7 linked regions of the Homo sapiens genome follow. The protein of the gene in region 2 purifies or fractionates together with the protein of the main gene of each other region. This does not show direct contact. Each region holds a gene or a part of one and is shown on either strand. Other genes may lie near its edges.

Region 1 (3,500 bases), on a different chromosome or scaffold from region 2:
TTTTTTTTTTTTTTTTTTACATAAGTTTTACAAGATAATACATTTTTACAGTGACCTGATGTGGATACAACTTTGCAACTTGGCAAAAAGCAAATCTTAACTTACATTATAATTAATTTGCTGCATTTTACACATCTCTGATTCTCAATTTTGGCAAGTACAACAGGTTAAGGGTTCTATTTAGTGTCCCCTTCTGATGAATATGATGATCTTGAACCCATTCTTCCTCCTCAAGCACGGTCATCCTCCTCTGATGGCAACAGCAGAACCTCTGGGAAAGGAACCTTTCGGTATCCAGAACTCCCAGGTGGCAGCCCAGTGTGGGATTTGGAGCATGACAACAAAGGCATTTTCTCAACATTTACTAAAGGAGAGTGGGGTGTTCTATACGCTACTGATGGGGACTGTACATGAACACATTTAAATTGAATTACAACAACATTTTAGATAGGAAATATAGAATCTTATAAGAACATAATCTAAATTATAACCAATTTTAAATAGCAAAGTTTAACAATAAAGCTACTTAAGTGTTTGAATTAGAAATAAACAGTAAAACATCTGTATTAATTATAACAGAGTTGACATTTGTTTATATTTTATCTTCAGTATTAACCAAAGGAGTGGAATTTAGCCAGGGTTGCACTTTTTAAAAGTTGTATATACTTTTATTTATTTTACAAAAGGAAAAAAAAAGACATACTTTTCCCATAAAATTCCAGGTCTTACTATGTAAAATAACCATGCACTACTTCATGTTATAATCATAATTTTAGACTATTTCCAGTAGGTAAGTGTCATAAAGAAGGAAGAGATATGGCTTCCACAGCTTCAATGAGGTGTAAGGCTAGACCATATTGCCCATGTTTTTCTGGTAAAAGCTCAATTACTTTATTTACTAGTTTAGCTGTTGTTGCAATTGGCACTTCAGTGTTTTGAAGGTCCTGGGGGTCCTGCAAATGGGACACAAAAATAACCTATTATAGACAACTAAACAATAATTGTTATTGACTTAAGAGTTATTACATAAAAATGCTTTTCTTTGTAACTAGGTGAATTAAACTTGTCAAATTTTCTTCATAACTGTTATTAACCAGGCACTCAAGAAAACATCCAATGACCTTTTGCCTGATCTCGTTCTATTGTACTGACCATTGCTTTCAGCCAAGTACACAGTGTGGGTGGAAGTCTGGCAAGCAGCTCCATTCCTTCTTTTGTCTGGGTGTGGAGAAGCGCATGAGCCAGCCTTTGCCCCGTGAGCACCAGCAGCTGAGAGGCAAGGACCTCTTTGTCATGAACCTGTAGAATGGCCTGAAGATAGGAACATGGAGAAATAATACAGTCAGAGTGAGCAGATTTGTTTATTCTATAGGAAAGGGGTTGCCAGTGAAGAGATTCTAGTTGATTTTTGAACTGTGGCCATTTATCTTTTGATTGTATACAACCAAAGATAAATCCAAATCAAACTTAGCATTTAAACCCAAATTTCTGTTCCTTGGTTAATTTTTTTTTCTCTCATCACCTAATCTTTCAATTCAATGTGGCTACTCAGTGTGCTGTTTTCAAACTTTTGGCAAATAAAAGGAGTTTCATGTCATGTCTATTTGAAACCCTCTAATGGCTTTTTTTTGTTGTTTTTTGAGATGGAGTCTCACTCTGCCACCCAAGCTGGAGTGCAGTGGTGCAATCTCAGCTTACTGCAGCCTCCACCTCCTGGGTTCAAGCGATTCTCCTGCTTCAGCCTCCCAAGTAGCTGGGATTACAGGCACATGCCACCACGCCCAGCTAATTTTTTGTATTTTCAGTAGAGACAGGGTTTCACCATGTTGCCCAGGCTGGTCTTGAACTCCTGACCTCAAGTGATCCACCCACCTTGGCCTCCCAAAGTGCTAGGATTACAGGCGTGAGCCACCACGCCCAGCCCCTCTAATGGCTTCTGAATACACTTAGAATAACCATGGGCTCCGAGACCTAGGATAGGGCCATGGCCCGGGCCAGCCTCCCTGCCTCATGCCATACTTCTTTATTCCTTGCTTACTATGTTTGGTCAGCCATACTGGCCTTTCTAGTCCTGGACCTAGTCATTCTAGTCCCCACCTCAGGGCCTTTGTAATTCTTGTCTCAAGCACTGTTCCCCCAGTTTCTGAGTAGCTGGCTGCTGCTTCTCCTTGGGGGCTCGGTTCAAATGTCACCTTCTCTGACCACTCTACTGTAGTGGCTCCTGTTTATTCATATGATCCTGTTTCTTTCTTTTTCAATTTAAAAATAAATATTTTTTTCCTTTTTAGAGACGGGGTCTCGCTATATTGCCCAGATTGGTCTCGAGCTTCTGGGCTCAAGTGATCTGCCACCTGAGCCTTCCAAAGTGCTGGGATTACACGTGTGAGCCACGACACCCGGCCCTCTTTATTTTCTTCATAGCACCTATCATTCAATGCAAAATTTAGCATGCTTTTCTGCTCCTACCAGCAGACTATCAAGTCCATGATGAAGGAACCTTGTCTGTTTTGTTTACTGCTATATCCCTGTGCGTAGGGCAGGCCTGGCACACTGTAGGAATTATTTGATTATAATTTTATGTTTTAAAAAATATTCTATTGTTCTATTTTTATACCTAGATGTTCTAATAAAAGGAAGAGCAAAAGGCTTCATTGGAAACTTAACTGATTCTTTATTCCAACTATCAATTTTATAACTTGAGCCCAATTAACATTCAAAGGGTCATGATTACCTCTTCTCCTAAGTGGTCAACTCCATAGTTGTATAGTTCCCCCACATAATGCCTTCTAACAACATCTTCACTAACTTGAAGGTGATGGGCTAAATCCACAGCTAGAGCTGGCCAATCTTGGTCTTTCCCAAAAGGAGTGGGTGTGGCCTCTTCTGTGGGATCTTTGACCTTTGTGGCTGAATGTTGGGCCTGGACAGCTGCACTGACAACTTTCAATAAGAACTTGAAAATGGAGAAAGAGATAGAGCAATGCATTGTTACTGTTTCATTTTAAAATACCTAAACCAAGTATTGTTAGCTTTTCTGTCACTTATAGTGGCTTTTCCATTAAATTGTTTAGTTATCAAAAAAGGAACACATCATTTAAACAACTAGCTCTCAAGAATACTTTGAAATTGGTCTTTTTTAAATATTATTATTATTTTTTATTATTATACTTTAAGTTCTAGGGTACATGTGCACAACGTGTAGGTTTGTTACATATGTATACATGTGCCATGTTGGTGTGCTGCACCCCTTAAGTCATCATTTACATTAGGTATATCTCCTAATGCTATCCCTCCCCCTTCCCCCCACCCCACGACAGGCCCTGGTGTGTGATGTTCCCCACCCTGTGTCCAAGTGTTCTCATTGTTCAACTCCCACCTATGAGTGAGAACATGTGCTGTTTGGTTTTCTGTCCTTGCGATAGAAAGTAGTCATTCTTTTCAAAAGCCAGCTAGATTTTTCCCTTATGTTTTTTTTTCCAAGAAACAAAAACAAAATCCAA
Region 2 (3,500 bases):
GTAAACAGGAGGCCTGTAGAACGCCTCATTTCTGACTCCTGACACAGTGCCAGGGCAAGGGCACATCTATGAATGCTCCATGAACGAACAATGCAAGCAAGGAAGCTCCCTGAGGGCAGAAATGGTCTTCTTCACCCCTCTATTTTCAGTACTCAACCCACAGCACAGGTGCACTGAATTAATAATCGTTCTACCCAATGCAATTAAAAGGATTAACAATGCATGTTATAAATTTTATTCTCATGTTCTCTTCCCCAACTTACTCTTCAAACAATTCATGATTTGATTCACATAGACTTAGAATTTTAGAAATATCCCTCATCTAGCTAGCACCACAAAAGCTGAAGAGAACCGGAGCTCCTGCCTCCAGTTCCCGGCCTAGAGTTACTTGTCACAGCTGAGCCCCCTTTTAACATGAGTAATAACAAGGATCAGGTACATAAAATTTGAAACAGGATGGAAAATAGTAGGAATATAAGATGTAGACAAAACAATCTGTCCTAACGAATGAATCCACTTTTCACTCCATTAACTATCATTTCTTTCAGTCTTAAACCCAGAGTTACCCTTTCCCTCCTCCCCCACTCAAAAAAAAGGATACGGCAGAAGAGTTCCACACTGAACGGACAGAATCACCCAAGAAGGCTGAAAAAGAAAAGATTAAATCAAAAAGTATTCTCAATTTACAAGTGGCATATTATTTTACTAGTGTTGTTCTTAGAAATTAAAAGTCTCTGTTACAACCTATTTTAAAACATCCAGATTACAAGTATGAATATTCAAATAGAAATATTATAGTCAAAGATTAGTTACTAATACCCAAGATGAAAAATCCAATTACAGAATGAAGCACTACCATATTTTTTTAAAATTATGTATAAACATTTAAGTTCCAGGTTTACACACTTATTACTGCTGACCCCCACATTTAGGACAGGGGAACTGCCACCCATCCTGCCCCACCACCGCCGACACCTCATCCAGGGCATAGTCAGCCTCTCATACGCTCCCTTCTTGAATCCCAAATTCAGTCAAGTCTAAATTCATGAGGTGTTTGTTTGTTTTAGTGAAGTCAAGCAGATACAATGTTTGTAAGCCTGAAAATATTTTTATAAATTCTAAAAACTGAGATTAATTATAAAACAGATTAATTACTACCTTTCTGGGTAATTTATATTTTTGAAAAATTATCTTGTTTCTATGTTTAATTTTTATAATTATACAAATCATTCTCCTGATAGCTCTACTTCAGAAAATTACTATCAAAATGTAGTAATGCCCCCATTACTACATTCTGGAAGGCAGCTGACTTCCAGAAACTTCAGCCAACTGAAACAGACATATATACTCACTACCCACCCATCAATTCATTCATCAAATATTTATTGAGAATCTATTTTATGCAGAGATGGTGCAAGGCGCTGGGGATGTAACAATGAAAACGAGAAACGCAGTCTTTGCTCTCCTGCAAGTCATATTCCAAGCTAATGATCTTCAAGCTATTTTTGTCATGTACACCTTAAATAAATTTCAGACAATGAAATGCCCCCCTTATCATTTTTTAGATGACATCTAAAATTTTTCAGCATAACTCTAAATAAGTATATTTTCTGTGAGAAGAGGAATATTAAACATTTTATAAAATAAAATAAAGATTGGCAGCTGTGCCTGGGATAATTACTTCATTATGATTTGACATTTACCAAAGGTTTTAACTAAGTTACTGGATTAGTTATCTGAAATCTGAAAGAAGGCACTTAATTTTTCGATCTATGTGCCTTATCCAACATATCTTCACATTTTTTGATAGTCCTAGAAAAATTCCAGTTAAATTTAAAAAAATGGGCCAGCATCAGGAATCGGTATTGGCCTTGACACTTCTGAATTCAGAACACCTTCATGTAGACCAAGCTCTCCTTTCAACAGCAACACCCAGAAACCCCTCTCTCCTCATGATGCCATGACTGAGCACTAAGGGAACAGTCCCTAAAACCAGTCTTTCTAATTGTCCTTTTGTCTGCTGTCCACGAGAATTTTCAGAGCCTGGGGCAATGCACTACAAGATTAGGATGGGTGAAGGTCTGATTCTTCCTGTGTAAAGTGGGAGGGGCCACTGTGACCACAGGTGTGTTCTCAGGCAGCTTTAGGAAGGGCCAGTCTGGAAATGTTATCTATCACCTTACAACCATCCACACAGCATACACGCTGAATATCTCCCCCCAGGGAGCTTGGGTAGGGTATCCCAGTTTAAAGACTGCTGGCTATCATAAAGTCCCATCCAAGCACAGTAGAATCACTGAGGCCCTACTTCAGATAAGTTTAGATAAAATAATGCAAAATTAGGATGTAGGCCACAGTACAAAGCAGAAATGGAGAACTACAAAAGCAAAGTGATAAGGAACTATTTATCCTAAAGGCAAAGAACAATATATAAAAATAAGCTGGCTGATCGCGATGGCTCATGCCTGTAATCTCAGCACTTTGGGAGGCCAAGGCGGGCGGATCACTTGAGGTGACAGGTTCGAGACCAGCCTGGCCAACATGGTGAAACCCCGTCTCTACTAAAAACACAAAAGTTAGCCGGGCGTGGTGGCACACGCCTGTAGTCCCAGCTACTAGGGAGGCTGAGAGAGGAGAATCGCTTGAACCCTGAGGCAGAGGGTGCAGTGAGTCGAGATCACACCATTGCACTCCAGCCTGGGAGATTCTGTCTGAAAAAAAATTAAATAAAATAAGCCCACTACAAGTCAGCAAAATTAACATTTCCAATGATGCCCAAAGGCCACTGAGAAAAATATCTCAATTTAAAAAATAATTTTAAAAGTTTTGGTGCCCAAAGAAGCAAGTTTTAAACATTTATAAGATTCAAATATGTAAATGATAGATAAACTGTCACTGTGTATAAAGATGCCTTATTTTTAAAATGCATTGTCAAACTTCCTATCAAGGTAAAGGCCAAGGGATATGCCTCTAGGGAACCAGGTCTCAGCCTTCAGTCATATGAATTCAGACTCAACTATTAGCAGCAGGATCCAAAATAAGACAGGCCCATAAGGTTCAAACTAAGAATATCAGGATCTACTTGAAATATCTTAGAGTGAAGGCAAACTGTTGAGTCAGCTCCGAAGTACTCTACCACCTTGTAATGTAACACAATAGTCCCTGGACAATACAGGTGCTGTCAAAAATTACAAGCAGGCTGGAATGCTACTGGGTACAGATGAAATATGTCTGTCACTCATTTTAAAATACTATAGCCAGAGGGGGAAAAAGTTGGGTTTGAATACAGTAAACTACCTTGGCAAAATGGTGATAATCCTAGATGCTAACTGCTAATTGTATAAGTAATGGGTATTTCTACTTAGCCTTACATACTGACTTTCCCAGGAATATGAATACTGTGTAAAATGAAGGAAGACTGCTTTGTTTAGCTCAGGAATTGATCACCATTCTGAAATGTCACCTCACAGCGGCGACCCCACTTGTGGGGTATGATATCA
Region 3 (3,500 bases), on a different chromosome or scaffold from region 2:
ATCTCTCCCCTTGTTCAACAACCAGCCTTTCTGTGTATACTTTTCCCCTTTACGATCTATTCAACTCACTGTGACGAGAGCTGTTTTAAAGAGACCGACAATCCAAGCTTTACAAAATTTTTTTAATGCATCCAGACTGTAGATTCTTATTTTCTACCAACCAGGACTCCTTGGGAAAATGACTGACTCCAGGCGTAAAGCAGGAAGTAGTACACAAAGATGGGCCTAGACCATCTCATTATGACAGAAAGAGGGAAACTTTCAAAGCTGCCCAGGCACCATCACCTATGAAGTATTCTTGCTAAAAATGTTTAACCTGCATCTCAATCACACCTCTCCAGACCTAACTTCCAGTATATAGGAAGTTCAGGGGATAAGATACAAGTTCAATGATACTAAGAAGAAACAGATAAATACAGAATGTGAGTATTAAAAAACTAAGAAAAATAAGCCAGGAGTGGTGGCTCACGCCTGTAATCCTAGCTACTTGGGAGGCTGAGGCAGTAGGATAGCTTGAACCTGGGACGCAGAGGCTGCAATGAGCTGAGATGGTGCCACTGCACTCCAGCCTGGGCGACAGAGCAAGAGTCCGTCTCAAACAAACAAAAAAACCCAAACCTAAGCAAAATAAATGTCATGAAGGAACTGCTCCACACTAAAAGCCTGACTACATTAGGTTTTACCTAAAAACCCCTTGTACTACATGACTGGATTAGATCCCGGTTAAGAAAAAACCCAGCTATAAAGACATCCATGGAGTAACTGGGGAAACATGAATATGGCCTGGGCATTTAGTAATTAGATGGAATTACTATTAATGTTCTTAGGTGAAAAAACAGAACTGTGGTTATCCTCATTCTTGGAGACACATGCTGAAGTATTTAGGGGCAAAGTATCATAATTTCTACAACTTACTTTCAAATGCTACAACAAAATAAATGTACAGTGTGCTTGTATAAATACATACATACAAAGAGAGAAAAGGCAAAATGCTATCTGTTAAAGCCAGAGGAGGGTATACAGGTGTTCATTAACTATTCTTTCAACTTTTGTTTGAAGAAACCAATTGCAAAAATACCTATTTGAGACAACTAGGGCAGGGTGCAGTGGCTCACGTCTGTAATCTCAGCACTTTGGGAGGCTGAGGTGGGAGGACCGCTTGAACCCAGGAGTTCAAGACCAGCCTGGGTAACATAGCAAGACTCCATTTCTACAACAAACAAACAACTGAAAAATTGGAATACAACCTAGATATTACATCATAGTATGGAATTATTGCTAATTTTGCTAGCTATGTTATCATGGTTTCTTTTAAAATACTACAGATACATACTGAAGCAGTTGCAGATGGAATGATAGATGTCTAGACTTGCCTTACAACAATGCAGCAGGAGCGGGTGATGTGAAACAAGACTGGCAAAATAAAAACTACAGAAGCTGGAGGAGTGGGAGGTGCAATTCAGAGTTCTCCAATGCTTCATATATAAATTTCAAATTTTCCATAATAAAAAGTCAAAAGACCTAAATAACAAAACCTGAAAAGTCTCCAGTGACTTCTCACTACTCTTCCATTCTTGCTCTGGCCTAATGGTCAGTATATCTGGTCCTTCTCTGCCTTATCTCAAGCCACTCTCCTCCCGTTACCTCTCTATATTAGCTTCTCTACTCTGGAAAACTTTCTCCTGCCCCCAGGCCTTCAGAAACACCCTTTTCTGTTAGATAGATAGGCATTTTCTCGACGGGCACGGTGGCTCAAGACTGTAATCCAAGCACTTTGGAAGGCCGAGGTGGGTGGGTCACCTGAGGTCAGGAGTTCGAGACCAGTCTGCCCAACATGGTGAAACTCTGTCTCTACTAAAATTACAAAAATTAGCCAGGCATGGTGGTGTGCACCTGTGATCCCAGCTACTCAGGAGGCTGAGGCAGGAGAATCGCTTGAACCCGGGAGGTGGAAGTTGCAGTAAGCCGAGATTGTGCCACTACACTCCAGCCTGGGTGACAGAGTGAAAGAAACTCCGTCTCAAAAAAAAAAAAAGAAAGAAAGAAAGGCATTTTCTTCTGCTCACCATCTCTCTGCCTTATTCATTAGGGCTCAGTTCTACAGCATGTCCTTAGGGAAGCTGTTGCCAGCTCTCTAGACTAGTTGTGCTGTGTGCATTTTCTTGTCACAATAGCACGGTTTATTCAATACTCATCTTCTACGCTAGACTGAGTTTCAGGGGGGCAAGGACCATATTTGTCTTTTTTTTGAGACAGAGTCTCTTTCTGTCGCCCAGGCTGGAGTATAGTGGAGTGATCTCTGCTCACTGCAACCCCTGCCTCCTGGGTTCCGGTTTAAGCGATTCTCCTGCCTCAGCCTCCCTAGTAGCTGGGACCACAGGCGTGTGCCATCATGCCTGGCTAATTTTTTTTTACTTTTGTATTTTTAGTAGAGATGGGGTTTCATCACGTTGGCCAGGCTGGTCTTGAACTCCTGACCTCAGGTGATCCACTCGCCTCAGCCTCCCAAAGTGCTGGGATTACAGGTGTAAGCCACCGCGTCTGGCCATTTGTCTTCTTTACAAAGCCTTTCCAATGCTTAGCCCAGTGCCTGGCCTGTTCAGGTGCTAAGTAAGACAAAATTGCCATGTGTGCCATCAACCAAGGTAGTAGGATCTAGGGGTCCCAAGAAGAAATGTGAAAGGTGGCCTCTGATTTCCATTTTTTTTTTTTTTTTTGAGACGGTGTTTTGCTCTTGTTGCCCAGGCTAGAGTGCAACGGTGCGCTTGGCTCACCACAACCTCCGCCTCCCAGGTTCAAGCAATTCTCCTGCCTCAGCCTCCCGAGTAGCTGGGATTACAGGCATGCACCACCAACGCCTAGCTAATTTTTTTGTATTTTTTCAGTAGAGACGGGGTTTCTCCATATTGAGGCTGGTCTCGAACTCCTGACCTCAGGTGATCTGCCCGCCTTGGCCTCCCAAAGTGCTGGGATTACAGGCGTGAGCCACTGTGCCCGGCCTCTGATTTCCCTTTTTGAGATGGAGTCTCCCTGTCGCCCAGGCTGGAGTGGAATAGTGCGATCTCGGCTCACTGCAACCTCTGCCTCCTGGGTTCAAGCGATTCCCATGCCTCAGCCTCCTGGGTAGCTGGGACTACAGGTACGTGCGCCACCACACCATTTTTTTTTTTGAGATGGAGTTTCGCTCTTGTTGCCCAGGCTGGAGTGCAATGGCACAATCTCGGCTCACTGCAACCTCTGCCCCTACTGGGTTCAAGCAATTTTCAAGCAATTTTTCTGCCTCCGCCTCCCGAGTCACTGGGATTATAGGCACCCACCACGCCCAACTAAATTTTGTTATTTTTAGTAGAGACAAGATTTCGCCATGTTGGCCAGGCTGGTCTCGACTCCTGACATCAGGTGATCCACCCACCTCGGCCTCCCAAAGTGCTGGGATTACAGACATGCGCCACAGCGCCCAGCATTTTTGTATTTTTAGTACAGATGGGGTTTCACCATAT
Region 4 (3,500 bases), on a different chromosome or scaffold from region 2:
GGAAAAGGGCGGGGGAGAAGGATTAATCTTGTCAGAAAACTAAGGTCAGTAGAATAAAATACAAGAAATTAAGTTGACAAAATGAAACATAATGAGAAAAATTTTTTTGGACAAAAACAATTCAAAATCAGACTTGGCTAATAATACCAGTCTGACAGATTCTGAGAACTAAGGAGAGCCAATTGATGTTATTTTGCCCAGAGCTAAATATACTTTTCTTAAAAGTATGACAGTATCTGGTTCCTCTGACCAGCCATTATAATAATCTTTGCAATACACTGAACATACACATGGAATACAGAAGTCTCTATTTAAGGTCACCAGTTAACTAACTTAATAGGCAATAACGCTAGCTAACAGTAAGACATAAAGGCAAATGTTTGGAGGCCAAATCAAAATCACTTGCCTAGTCTTCTGACAAGATAAAGCAGCGCAATATAGTTCTTTTCCATTGGAAGACAGCATTCTACCTCCTGTTCAAGTTAACAGTCTCATCAGTACAAATATAGTGTGCTAGTCAGACAGTCCCAAAGCAAACCAATTTTTTGTTAACAATTCAGGCCCATTAAGAGTTTGTATCTGGTTTGTCATTTTTCAAGGGTAGGGGTACTTTTAAAAAACATAAAATGTAGTATTTGTAAAATAAATATGAAACAGGGTCAAAATTTAGACTATACGAGAACCTGTCCCATTCCGTAACTCAGTGTAATTTACACTGCAGGAAAAAAACTATACCTCTCAAACTTTAAGATCAGCCAATTTCCCCTACCCCCTACTTTGAGACTACAACATAACTAGCACTTCCAACTATTACAATAAAAAGCTGCATGTACGAAGAGCTGTGTAAATGAAAACATGGTTAATGCCTCAGTCGCTGCGCAAACGTGACTTCAGTTCATGTCTACCGCCCTTAAATCTACCTGAGCTACCTCACAGATAGAACCTTGCAATTTAAACTAATTAATCATGACGCGCTGTGAACATCTGCCGCTGTCCATCCAATAGTAGTAGACACTTGTGCTGAGGATTCTCCCATCTGTACACAATGGGGAAGAAGATAATAGAAGTCATTAGTAATCAAAAGTACTGCATAGCCACATTGTTTAAAGGACTGAATGCCAGCTGGACTGGAGAGAGGAGGAAAAGGAAGGGTTCCAATCAGTAAACCCCCTGAAATTACTACAGAACCAAGAAAATACTCTCCCTGTCGTGAGCTTTTGTAAAGCTATGTGGATATGAAGATAATTATTTAAAACTTCTAAGATGTTACAAGGGGTGTCCAATCTTTTGGCTTCCCTGGGCCACACTGGAAGAACTGTCTTGGGCCACACATAAAATACACTAATGATAGTTGATGAGCTTAAAAAAAATAAAAAATAAAAAAACTCACAATGTTTTAAGAAAGTTTACAAACTTGTGTTGAGCCACAGGCTGGACAAGCTTGCTGTAAGAGCTTGAGATTGTGTAAGAGGTATCTATATAATTTTGGAAAGCTACCACCATAAATGCTCAGTGCAGAGATAAACCCTGAGAAGAGAAAGAAACAATACTGTGTATCATTAAGAATTTAACTTTTAATAATTCTTAAATTAAAAACTGAATATCAAATGTTTTCTGTAATACATTTCAAGCTCAATAATCCAGATTTCAGGTTCAAAATTCCTAAGGGCCTTAGAAACTTAAGTTTAAATCCCTATAAGAATGAATTATAAGAACCTGAGCAGAAACCTGGAAGGCAAATGTTGTCATCCAGCAACCAATATTGAGGTCTCTTGAGCCTAAGGGTAGATGTCTCCCATGTACAGGAGCTATACAGAGCCTCCCCCCAGCCCCACAAGATGAAGTCTCGCTCTGTCACCCAGGCTGGAGTGCAGTGACACAATCTCGGCTCACTGCAACCTCCACCTCCTGGGTTCAAGTGATTCTTCTGCCTCAGCCTCCCAAGCAGCTGGGACTACAAGCACATGCCACCACGCCCAGCTAATTTTTGTATTTTTAGTAGAAATGGGGTTTCACCATATTGGCCAGGCTGGTCTCAAACTCCTGACCTTGTGGTCTGCCCGCCTAGGCCTCCCTAAGTGCTGGGACTACAGGTTTGAGCCGCTGCGCACGGTCAGTATTTCCTTTATTTATTTATTTATTTTGAGATGGAGTCTCCCTCTATCGCCCAGGCTGGAGTGCAATGGTGTGATCTCAGCTCACTGCAACCTCTGCCTCCTGAGTTCAAGCAATTCTCCTGCCTCAGCCTCTCAAGTAGCTGGGATTACAGGCATGCGCCACCACGCCTGGCTAATTTTTGTATTTTTTTAGTAGAGATAGGGTTTCACCATGCTGGTCTCATGCTGGTTTTCACCAGGCTGGTCTCGAACTCCTGATCTCAAGTGATCCACCCACCTCAGCCACCAAGAGCGCTGGGATTACAGGGGTGAGCAACCGCGCCCGAAGCTATACAGAGCCTTTTAACATGAGGTCAAAATACTCTCTTCTACCTGTTATTACAGCAATCCAAAAAAAGTTATCTATTTTCAAATTAACAATCTGAGACTCTACTTTTAGTAGCTAATTAGTTGTATCACAGGGAAACTTTTTTTTTTTTTTTTTAAATATTTAAGAGCTCAAAGGTATACAGGCAGAAAGTGGAAAATCTCACTACTACTTTTTATTCTAAGCTCACGGTGTTTCAGATATCTATTTCACAACCAAGACCATGAAACCCATCATAGTATTTGTGACTACTATGAAAACTATGACATGTCAGTCAGCCTTGCTGCCTGCTGTGTGCTGTATATAAGTCCATTACATATTCCTTATAGCTGGATTGAAAACCTGAAAATGAAATGAAGTCCCTAGAGAAACTTGGCCATGCTGGTGCTTTTTACCAAGTTTGACAATTTAAAAAAAAAAAATCAGTGTTCAAAGGAGACATACAAAAGTCCATTTAATGTAGCAGAGATGTTTAGGGGATTACAATTTCTATCCCCTGGTAAAACCAATACTTGGTAGAAGGATAAAGAAAAAGCCACGTGAAATAATACTGAATAGCACCAGAATAGCCTTACACTAAAGCTCGCATGCGCACAGGGCTGGGAGGATGGCTTCCTCTTGCCAGGCCCTTTAGGTCATTTCAGCAATTGTTCTGTTAAACATAGCATTAATGTTATCAAGACACAGCAAGCAGCAGAAAGCTTGTGGAGTCACATTTCATAGTGTCTCATCTCCAAATCAGATAAAAGTGGTATACAGGGTTCCATCCAGAAAGCATTCAGTCAGAGCAAGTTAAAGTCAGTACTTTCTAACATACTTTTAAGATACTTATGCTGAATTAGCCCAAGGGAGAAAAATTAATGTGCTTGATGTATTTACTAAGACTTGCATCTCAAGTCTTCAATAATGCCTATTTTTGAAAGAAACCTAGGCAACGAATTGAAGAGACTTGGAAATGTGCCAATTCCCTAAATGTTTTTCTCCCTGTGGGATAATTTTTTTTAAAGGGACAATAT
Region 5 (3,500 bases), on a different chromosome or scaffold from region 2:
AGCAATTTTTAGAATATTAGCTGCAAAAAGAGAATCCCATCAGTATCATCCCTCCTCCCTCATTACCATTCTCAAAACCACCTAAACTGACAATGACACATTTCTTCTAAAGGCTTACAGATTAAAAATAGAAAACCAATAACCCTCATAACATTCAATACCAGAGTTAAGTGAGCTGATCATTCTCTTATATACTAGAAATTAGTACAATTTTTCAGGGAAGTAATTTGGAAATATTTACCAAGACTTTTAGGAAGTGTATACTTTTCGACTAAGTCATTCTTCTAAGAATCTATTGTAATGAAATAATCAGATCTGCATGCAGATAAATGTATAAAGATGTTCACAGGAGCTATATATGCATATGAGAAAATTTCTGAATTGTAGAAAAATTCAGCAACTGGAGGGTAATAAAATGTTGGTACATAGAAACATACAAAGAAATTACAGCAGGGCGCAGTGGCTCAGGCCTGTAATCCCAACACTTTGGGAGGCCGAGGCAGGTGAATCACTTGAGGTCAGGAGTTCAAGACCATCCTGGCCAAAATGGTGAAACTCCATCGCCACAAAAATACAAAAATTAGCCGGGCATAATAGCGGGTGCCTGCAATCTCAGCTATTCAGGAGGCTGAGGAGGGAGAACTGCTTGAACCTGGGAGTCGGAGGTTGCAGTGAGCCAAGATCACACTACTGCACTCCAGCCTGGGAAACAGAGTAAGGCTCCATCTCAAAAAAAAAAAAAAAAAAATTACATTACAATTGCACTGAGGCCATCAGTTTTAGACAGCTATTTGATAAAAAGACAATCTTCTATGTCACAAAGGTAGTTTTACAGCTGTCAAAACACTGAACGTGTTCCCTCCTAAAGTCCTACCTATTAATATTTAGTTCAATGTATCAGGTTAGATAAATCAATACTATGTTTCCCCATCAGAAAAATTGAATCATTTTGGTTCCCAAAACAATGCAAAGCTAACACCTATATAATCAGAAGACAAAAAAAAATCCCCCCAAAAAAGAAAAAAACAGGATATATGTGAACAAATTTGGTGGAAAAACTTCATTTACTTACTTACTGCACATTGTAACAGAGGAAAACAAAAAGGCAAGGGTCAAATTTTCAGTTGTTTGTAACTGCATTTCCTTTCCAGATGCCTAATAATGCTGTCCTTAGATTACAAAAATAACATTATTTCTAAATCACCGTATCACCCTCTACTGTCCCCTATCAAGTAGACTGCATGTTATGTGTTTTTTAGTTGTTTTCCACCAAGTGGTAATAAAGACTGGTTGTGGTAAGTTTCTTACCCAACCCTTTTATAGCCAAAAGCAAAATTAAGTTGATTCAGCAGGGCTGTGGGTATAATCTGTGGCAAATAATGCAAAACTCACAACTTCAAGTTAATTTAATACAGGGCTAACATGTACACAGTTGTGCAGCTGAAGAGACCAACCAGAGCTGGAATCCAGCCTACATTCCAGTCACCACGCATGTATCCGGACATAAAGGAGTACTTTTTCCTAATCATTAAGACTCAATATGAGCTAGTGGGAGATATGACTGAAGTCATGACCCAATCTAAATTAACATCATTATATAATCAACTGCATTAACTAAAAATGGCAAGTATACAGCCTCAAATCAATAAAGGATGTATGCAAAAAAAAAAAAAAACCTCTTCCTGGTCAACTAATAAAATGTACACAATACAATAAAGAGATAAAAGAATATATACGATAGTTAATATACAACCCAGACCAAAAAGTGGCTAGTAGAAAAAAATAACAAAAGTAAAAATAGCACCAGAACAAATGAAATACTTGTGAGAAATATTTCATGTAAAGTTTTATGTAATGTTTTATATAATGTTTCATAGAATAAGTTAAATAGGGAGATAAATGTTTTCTTAGATCTGAAAAAAAAAAAACCCTTGTAACACTAAAATCAGCCCCTATTTGTTAGGAATTATGCTTGTAATGGAAAAAACGGCCAAGTGTGGTGGCACACGCCTGTAATCCCAGCACTTTGGGAGGCCAAGGTGGGCAGATCGTGAGGTCAGGAGATCAAGACCATCCTGACCAACATGGTGAAACCCCATCTCTACTAAAAATACAAAAATTAGCTGGGCATGGTGGCGTGTGCCTGTAGTCCCAGCTACTTGGGAGGCTGAGGCAGGAGAATCGCTTGAACCCATGTGGCGGAGGTTGCAATGAGCCGAGATCACACCACTGCACTCCAGCCTGGTGACAAAGCGAGACTCGAGACTCTTGTCTCAAGAAAAAAAACATAAGAAAGCAGTTATTTTCAAGGCTGATAAAAATAAAGCAAAGGATGTACTACACTAAAGTGCTCTCTGTCTTGGGTTGTAAAAATGGGAAAATATCTACAGACTCGTACTTTGAATTATTGTGCATTCATATATATTAAAAAGTTAGAAAATAGTCAAGTAATTTGTCTAAAAACTGGCAAAGGATACAAAGAAGTCTTAGCATCCTGAAATTGCTGAACTGTTATGACACGACATAATGTCTTAGCCATTTCTAAAGAAGCATGCAGCATCAAAAAGTAAATATTTTTAAAAAGTGCCTTGTCTACAAGTTGAGGCACACAACACAGGAAACATGGTCTAATTTATTCAGGAAAAGTCATATTTCTACTCTATTTATCTAAAAATCAACTTACAAATAATAAGCCCCAATGAACACATACTGCATTCTCTATATTTATTAATAATCTGTCAACTCATCCCAGCTCCCATTTGCACTGGAAAATTTATAATTTCAAGAAACACCTAGTAACTTCAGAATATATCTACTTTTAATGTTATCTCCACCTATCCACTAGTTATCAATTTTTTCATTCAAAGGGCATTATAAAAAGCACCAAAACTCCTTACTTCAGGATTACAATTAATCTCTATTTACCAAAGAGAAGACTGGAAGTTTGCAATAATTTACAGGTAACTTATCAGATACCAAGCCTAGACTAGGAACTGGAAGTAATCCTCTACAAAAACATAAAGTGGCCAAGTGCAGTGGCTCATGCCTGTATAATCCCAGCACTTTGGCAGGCTGAGATGGGAGGATCACTTGAGCCCAGGATTTCAGGACCAGCTTGGGCAACACAGTGAGACCCCATCTCTACAGAAACAAAGGAAAAAAAAAAGACAAGTCAGGCACGGTGGCTCACACCTGTAATCCCAGCACTTTGGGAGGCTGAGGCGGGCAGATCATGAGGTCAGGAGTTCGAGACCAGCCTGGCCAACATAGTGAAACCCCATCTCTACTAAAAATACAAAAATTAGCTGGGCATGGCTGCGCCTGTAGTCCCAGCTACTCGGGAGGCTGAGGCAGAAGAATCACTTGAACTCGGGAGGCAGAGGTTGTGGTGAGCCGGGATCACACCACTGCACTCCAGCCTAGGCAACAGAGCAAGACTCTGTCTCAAAAAAAAAAAAAAAAAAAAAAAAGACAAAAGATGACACAGTTATGCAAAAATG
Region 6 (2,742 bases), on a different chromosome or scaffold from region 2:
CCCAGATTTGCCCGACGGCGATCATGCCTACCAGGCCTATGGGGGGGTTGATGGGGAACCCCAGCGCTGAAGACACAATGACCTTACATTGAAGGGGCTCCAATTATTAAACCCAAGTTAGTATTTATGCACCAAACTGAGAAAGAGCTACTTTAATTGACCTATTACAGACATCATGCTGTTGTATTTTTTGATCCAAATTCAAAACTGCAAAAATGTGACATTTCTTTAAGGACCAGCTTTACTCCATACTGTCTTCAGGAACCTGGTGATGGAGGTTCATCTCCCACTTCATCTCTGAGGTCTTTAGACAAACATTTGCTACTTTTGTAATCTATACCTGGCCTTGGGCAAGCCCCTGTCATCTGAAATAGCAAAATACAGGAGCCTGCTCTGGTACGGGAAGCTCAGGGTAGGCAGGTATGCATAAAATATGGATCCTCACAGGAAGGAAACATTCTGAAGGGTCAGAACATATTCGAAACTCATGCCACATAAAATAGGTGTCATTTTTACTTTATTTAAGGAAAAAAGGGTGGGGGGACAACAGTAATTTTCATAATACACAGTAGACAAGTTAGCACTGCAAAAAAAAGGGCTGTGTACTTGCCACCAGTCTGCTTTGCAGCTTTTATAATTAGTAAATTTAATGCAGTTTGTCATTTGTATTACTATTTAGCAAATTAATAATTGGCAAAATTAGGGTAAGTGTGCTACAACTAAGACGAAAACCTAAATAACCCATAAAAAGTCACTTAAAATAAACCATAAATATGTGGTGCGCATTAGTGTAACAAAACCATTTTTGTAAACATTTTCTCCAACGTAACATGTGCATGAGAAAAGAGTAAAAAACACTGCACTCAATACAGAAAGGGTTACTCTGATTTTAATACAGAAAGGTTATTACTTGTGAAAGCTCTGACTAAACCTAGAGACATTTTTGTTTTGTTTGGAAGAGCACTCCTCTAACAGTTCAATGTTCCTTATGTAATGGTGTCATTGCAATACTGTTTTCTTGTGTAATTTTGCCATATTGGCACTTCTGTGGAGAAGTTACTACCCTGTAAAAGGGGGGAAAATAATTCCTTTCCTAAAAGAATCTAAACATTTCGACGACTCCCAATCTTTAACGGAGAAACTTCACTGGGTCCCTGCATCAAGCTATAGCAACTCAATCTGGTTGACAAGGGGGTGAGGCTAAGACGGGAAGGAAAAAAGCCAAGTAAAGCACAGACCAGGAAGCCCCCGCCGAGAAGGACAAAGGGTGTTCCAATTTCAGTAACTTAAGCCCAACAATGGATTCAATTCAGTTCACCACAAACACCACCAGAGTGCCCACCGGGTGCCTGGAGCTGCACAAGCAAGCCAAGCACAACTCGGTGTGAGCTCAGACCCCTTTACCACCTATGGGAAAGCCAGCAAGTTCTAAGCACTTGGTAATTCCAATGAAACACCATTTGCATTTTTTTTTGTGTAACATTTGACTTACAGACATGGAGCTTCAAGTCTTTGGATAATGTTAAGACCATTATGCCACATCCTTTGTTCTCTGCCTTCTCCCACTTAGCATCAGACATTGAGCATTTCTTCAAAGACATCTGCCCACCTTTTACTGTTCTCCACCTGTGCCTTTCCTTCTTCTCTTGATATGTACACGAGTGTGTTCACTGTGGCATGTTTCATCTTATGAAAAGCCTAAACATGGATATAAATTACAAGCAGGAATTTAATTCTAACTAAAGTCCTGTGGCGATGGAATCCAGCCTACCTCAAATCCCTTTAAAGGTAGGATTAATTTTTCAACCTTCTCTAGGTTAACTACAAACCAGTAGGCGGCTTTGGCCTTCAGCACTGCTCCAAACTCATACAAATGAAACATCCATTTCCATCTTCTTTTACTTCCCCAAAAAGTAAGCTTCTCAGCTTGTCTTTACAGGTATACACAAAACCACCAGCTGCTGTGTCTGCATTCATGAGTGGATGTACTTGTCTTACCAGATGTTTGTAGCTCAAAGGAGGGCCTTTTTCAAAAAGATGGAACCAGGAACAGGAAACTGACAAGAGGTCAGAGTGGGTGCCAAGTGGGATGGGAAGCAAACAGGTACAAATGGCTGCTGTGTTTAGGTGGGTGGGAGCAGAGGGAAAATCCCCCATTTTCACAATATACAGGAAAATTAACCACAAAGGAAAAAGATCAAGCCTAAAAAACAGCAAGTTTCTTTTGATGACTGAGGTTAAAGCAGCCATAATGCAGTTATTTCCACTCAGAACTCGACAAGAGGAAAGTAAGATGGCAGGACTGTGACATGGAGTCCTGATCCTTTCCTGAGACGGTAATATCCTTACGGGAGCTTGAGTGATGACCATGAAGCCATGAAACAAATTCTTTCTCAAGACATTTATTACAAATGTCATGAATATATTCATAAAGTAAAATTGGTTTAAAAAAACAGAGAACAAGAGAGCAAGTGAGAAAACGAGAAAAGCCAGGACTTCGATATTACACCTAAAACACAGAAGATGCCCACTTTATGAATAAGCAGAATTAACTACATTCTTAAAATAGTTTTAGTGCATTGCATTTTTAGAAAAGGGAAACTCCCCCACCCCCAAGAAAAGGTTCCTGCAACACTGAACAGTTTGTGTGACTATTCTAATGTAACCACCTGTCTGCTACCAACCCCTCTACATCGAGAACAATGAGATCTTGTGTCATGGGCTGCAGTTGCCCCATCAACC
Region 7 (3,500 bases), on a different chromosome or scaffold from region 2:
ACAAATCAAATGCTCATTGATGAATGAACGGATAAACAAAATGTGACACATACAATGGAATGTTATTTAGCCATAAAAAGAAAGGAAATTCTGACATGTACTACAACATGGATAAACCTTGAAGACAATTATGTTAAGTAAAATAAGCCAGACCCAAAAGCCTTATTCCACATACACAAAATGGTATAATTCTTTAAAATATGCTTCTATTTATATGAGGTACCCAGAATAGTCAAAATCACAGAGGCAAAAAGTAAAATAGTAGTTACCAGGGGTTGGGGACTGAGGGGACAGAGGAGTTATTGTTTAATGACTATAGTTTCAGCTGGGGATGATGAAAAAGTTCTGAAGACAGATGGTGGTGATGGTTGCACAGTGATGTGAATGTACTGGATGCCACCAAACTGTATATTTAAAAACAGAGAGTAAATTTTACGTTCCGGATATCTTGCCACACACAGGCACAAAACTTCGATGATTCCTTATTATCTGACTAACAAAAGTACAAATTACTCATCTTAGCATCAAAAATCCTCCAGAGTAAGCCAAACTCTTTCTAGACTTACCTCTCATTAATTCCACTTTTGTGGTAAATTGAATATTAGTTTAATCATGTTAAGTTATGGGGAAGGCTGAATTATATAAAGAAAACTAGTAATTTTCAAGGTTTAATAAGCTATTTTGCATTGTGAAACTCCAAAAGGGCCTAGGAACAAATAAATGAACTTGAAAAAAAATGTATTCAATTAGATTATTCTTACCTATGTTGATCAAATTTAATGACTTAATGGTATTATACTTACAGTGAAAAAAGAAGTCCCACAAAAGCGAGTACATATTCCTCGTACAAAGCCTTCATGTGCTTGTATTGTACGGATACAATTCCGCTGAGTTAGATTCCAAATTCTAACCTATGATAAGGCATACCAGGAAATTTCAGTGAACTATAAATGTAAAATGTTCAGGATAAATTCAACACTGACAAGGCTACGAATCACTCTACTGGGCAGCTAAAACCAAAATCCTTTGGATTAAAACAATGCAATGCATATGGATAAGTATACTGATGAGCAAAAAATACAACCTGACAAATACTCTGTTGATTCTAAAGTGTTACAAAACTTTTTCACTTGCCATAGTAGGAAATTAGGTGTTGACAACATCTGTGAAAAAACTCATACTTAAATACTTTAATTATAAACATGATTATTTAATTTACTGTCAAATTGATCCTTAAACTACTGCATTTATAATTTCTTAGGTTTAAAGAAGAAAATACTAAACAGTATTCCTAACGAAATTTAGTCTTGAGAAGTAAATTGAAATCCAATAAAGTAAAACCTACAGTAACTAAAAACTAAAGGGAAAACATTTGTAATATAACTACTTTTAGTTGAAAATATCATCTAGATTGACACTTGCCTCTCCATCACACGCCCCAGAAAGGACAGTAGCCAGCTTCTCTGGATGCTTTGCCAAGCAATTGACTCCATCACGGTGACCATCCAGCGAAGCAAGGAATGGTTTTGCAAATACTCGTTCCAGTTTGGTAGCATTTAAAGCTCTTATATATTCTCGTGGGACCTCAAAAGGATGTAAAGCAGGATCATAGTTTCTTGGAACTGAAATAAGAATGATCCTTCTTAATAATTCACACTTAATATTTCCTGCAGTCTTCCTCAGCTAATCACTCTGTTATTCAATAAGCATTTAGTTAGTGACATTGTTCTATGCCTAACACTAAGAATACAAAAGTAGAAGACCTGTTGTTCAGAAATCTTTCTGAAATTACTGGAAAATCATGGGATGCATACATCTTGCAAAACAATTAGACCCTAGGTATATATACATGCAGCATTTCCTTTTTTTTTTTTTTTTGAGACGGAGTCTTGCTCCGTCACCAGGCTGGAGTGCAGTGGCGCAATCTCGGCTCACTGCAACCTCCGCTTCTCAGGTTCAAGCAATTCTCCTGCCTCAGCCACCCGAGTAGCTGGGATTACAGGCGCATGCCACCACGCCCAGCTAATTTTTCTATTTTTAGTAGAGATGGGGTTTCACCATATTGGTCAGGCTGGTCTCGATCTCGTGACCTCGTGATCCACACGCCTCAGCCTCCCAAAGTGCTGGGATTACAGGCATGAGCCACCGTGCCCGGCCTCCCTTTTATATGTCCTAGTACCCTCTTCAACTGGGTTGTAAGTGTTCACTGTCAGGGCTTCCAATACACTTTTCATTTGTACTTCCTTATGCCTAGCACAGTTTCTGGGACAAAATATGTGCAAGATGTTTGCTCAACAGAACTCTAAGCTTCCTGTAGGGCAGGGAACATTATTAATCTCTGGTGCTAAATACTGTGCTGATAGACACACGAAGTTGTGATTATGATGATATTATATAGCTATCATTTACTGAGCACTTTCTATGTTTGTTTACTTACTTAAAAAAGACTCACATAAGAGTTCAAGTGCCAGGCGCTGTTCCAAAAACCTTAACCGTTTAATCTCCACAGCATCCTATGTGTTAAGTTCTATTACTATCTCACACTTTATTGATGGGAAAACTGAGGCATAAAGAGGTTAAGTAACTCGAATACGACACGGTGGAGCCAGGATTCAAACCAAGGCAGTATGGCTCCAGAATCTATGTTTTAACTGTCCTGATACGCTGCTAAACACATTGTCTTGGTTAATAATCACGCTTAGGGCCGGGCGTGGTGGCTCACGCCTGTAATCCCAGCACTTTGGGGGGCCGGGACGGACGGATCACGAGGTCAGGAGATCGAGACCATCCTGGCTACCACAGTGAAATCCCATCTACTAAAAATACAAAAAGTTAGCCAGCGGTGGGGGTGGTATGTGCCTGCAGTCCCAGCTACTCAGGAGGCTGAGGCAAAAGAATCACTTGAACCTGGGAGGTGGAGGTTGCAGTGAGCCGAGATCGCGCCACTGCACTCCAGCCTGGCTGACAGAGTGTGACTTCATCTCAAAAAAAAAAAAAAAAAAAAAAAAAAAAAAAAAAATATATATATATATATATATATATATATATATATATATATATAATTATGCTTAGAAAGTAATTTTAAGCTCGTATGTCTAAAAAAACTCAGTGAGTAAAAAGTAAATGCATCTTCTTACCCCATGACTTCATCCTGCTGTTTCTTTCTGACTCCCTGGTAATGGTGTTATATCTAACATTCAACAAAGCTCTAGCCTAGGTCATTCTTATGTATTCCATCTTCCATATTCCCTACTACCAAAACTCAAAGTCCTACTCATCATCTCTTTGCAACACTTACTCATCTTTCAACTCTCTATTTCTAGTTTTTTGTGTTTTGTTTTTGTTTTTGTTTTGAGATGCGGTATCATTCTGTCACCCAAGCTGGAATGCAGTGATATGACTATAGCCTACTGCAGCCTCAACCTCCAGGGCTTAAGTGATCCTCCCACCTTAGCCTCTCACCTCAGCCTCCCAAGTAGCTTGGACCTGAGGCATGCACC

What was found.
Region 1: the proteins of PAXIP1 (region 2) and RAB3GAP2 purify together in Homo sapiens (affinity purification with mass spectrometry, with the first as the bait; one large-scale study listed by BioGRID). This does not show direct contact.
Region 3: the proteins of PAXIP1 (region 2) and SRSF4 purify together in Homo sapiens (affinity purification with mass spectrometry, with the first as the bait; one large-scale study listed by BioGRID). This does not show direct contact.
Region 4: the proteins of PAXIP1 (region 2) and OGA purify together in Homo sapiens (affinity purification with mass spectrometry, with the first as the bait; one large-scale study listed by BioGRID). This does not show direct contact.
Region 5: the proteins of PAXIP1 (region 2) and MOB4 purify together in Homo sapiens (affinity purification with mass spectrometry, with the first as the bait; one large-scale study listed by BioGRID). This does not show direct contact.
Region 6: the proteins of PAXIP1 (region 2) and MAP4K4 purify together in Homo sapiens (affinity purification with mass spectrometry, with the first as the bait; one large-scale study listed by BioGRID). This does not show direct contact.
Region 7: the proteins of PAXIP1 (region 2) and DCAF13 purify together in Homo sapiens (affinity purification with mass spectrometry, with the first as the bait; one large-scale study listed by BioGRID). This does not show direct contact.

What each region holds. Positions count from the first base shown.
Region 1 is NC_000001.11:220,150,454-220,153,953, forward strand, and holds part of RAB3GAP2 (rab3 GTPase-activating protein non-catalytic subunit), read right to left. Parts: intron 2,954-3,500; coding exon 2,732-2,953; intron 1,312-2,731; coding exon 1,153-1,311; intron 954-1,152; coding exon 798-953; 3' UTR 1-797. UniProt on the Homo sapiens protein: Regulatory subunit of the Rab3 GTPase-activating (Rab3GAP) complex composed of RAB3GAP1 and RAB3GAP2, which has GTPase-activating protein (GAP) activity towards various Rab3 subfamily members (RAB3A, RAB3B, RAB3C and RAB3D), RAB5A and RAB43, and guanine nucleotide exchange factor (GEF) activity towards RAB18.
Region 2 is NC_000007.14:154,993,125-154,996,624, forward strand, and holds part of PAXIP1 (PAX-interacting protein 1), read right to left. Parts: intron 648-3,500; exon of another isoform or gene 646-647; coding exon 602-645; intron 1-601.
Region 3 is NC_000001.11:29,150,901-29,154,400, forward strand, and holds part of SRSF4 (serine/arginine-rich splicing factor 4), read right to left. Parts: intron 1-3,500. UniProt on the Homo sapiens protein: Plays a role in alternative splice site selection during pre-mRNA splicing. Represses the splicing of MAPT/Tau exon 10.
Region 4 is NC_000010.11:101,794,445-101,797,944, forward strand, and holds part of OGA (protein O-GlcNAcase), read right to left. Parts: intron 1,528-3,500; coding exon of another isoform or gene 1,397-1,527; exon of another isoform or gene 1,037-1,396; coding exon of another isoform or gene 957-1,036; exon of another isoform or gene 1-956.
Region 5 is NC_000002.12:197,536,566-197,540,065, reverse strand, and holds part of MOB4 (MOB-like protein phocein), read right to left. Parts: intron 1-3,500.
Region 6 is NC_000002.12:101,892,449-101,895,190, reverse strand, and holds the end of MAP4K4 (mitogen-activated protein kinase kinase kinase kinase 4), read right to left. Parts: 3' UTR 501-2,742; downstream 1-500.
Region 7 is NC_000008.11:103,418,386-103,421,885, reverse strand, and holds part of DCAF13 (DDB1- and CUL4-associated factor 13), read right to left. Parts: intron 1,623-3,500; coding exon 1,423-1,622; intron 912-1,422; coding exon 804-911; intron 1-803. UniProt on the Homo sapiens protein: Part of the small subunit (SSU) processome, first precursor of the small eukaryotic ribosomal subunit.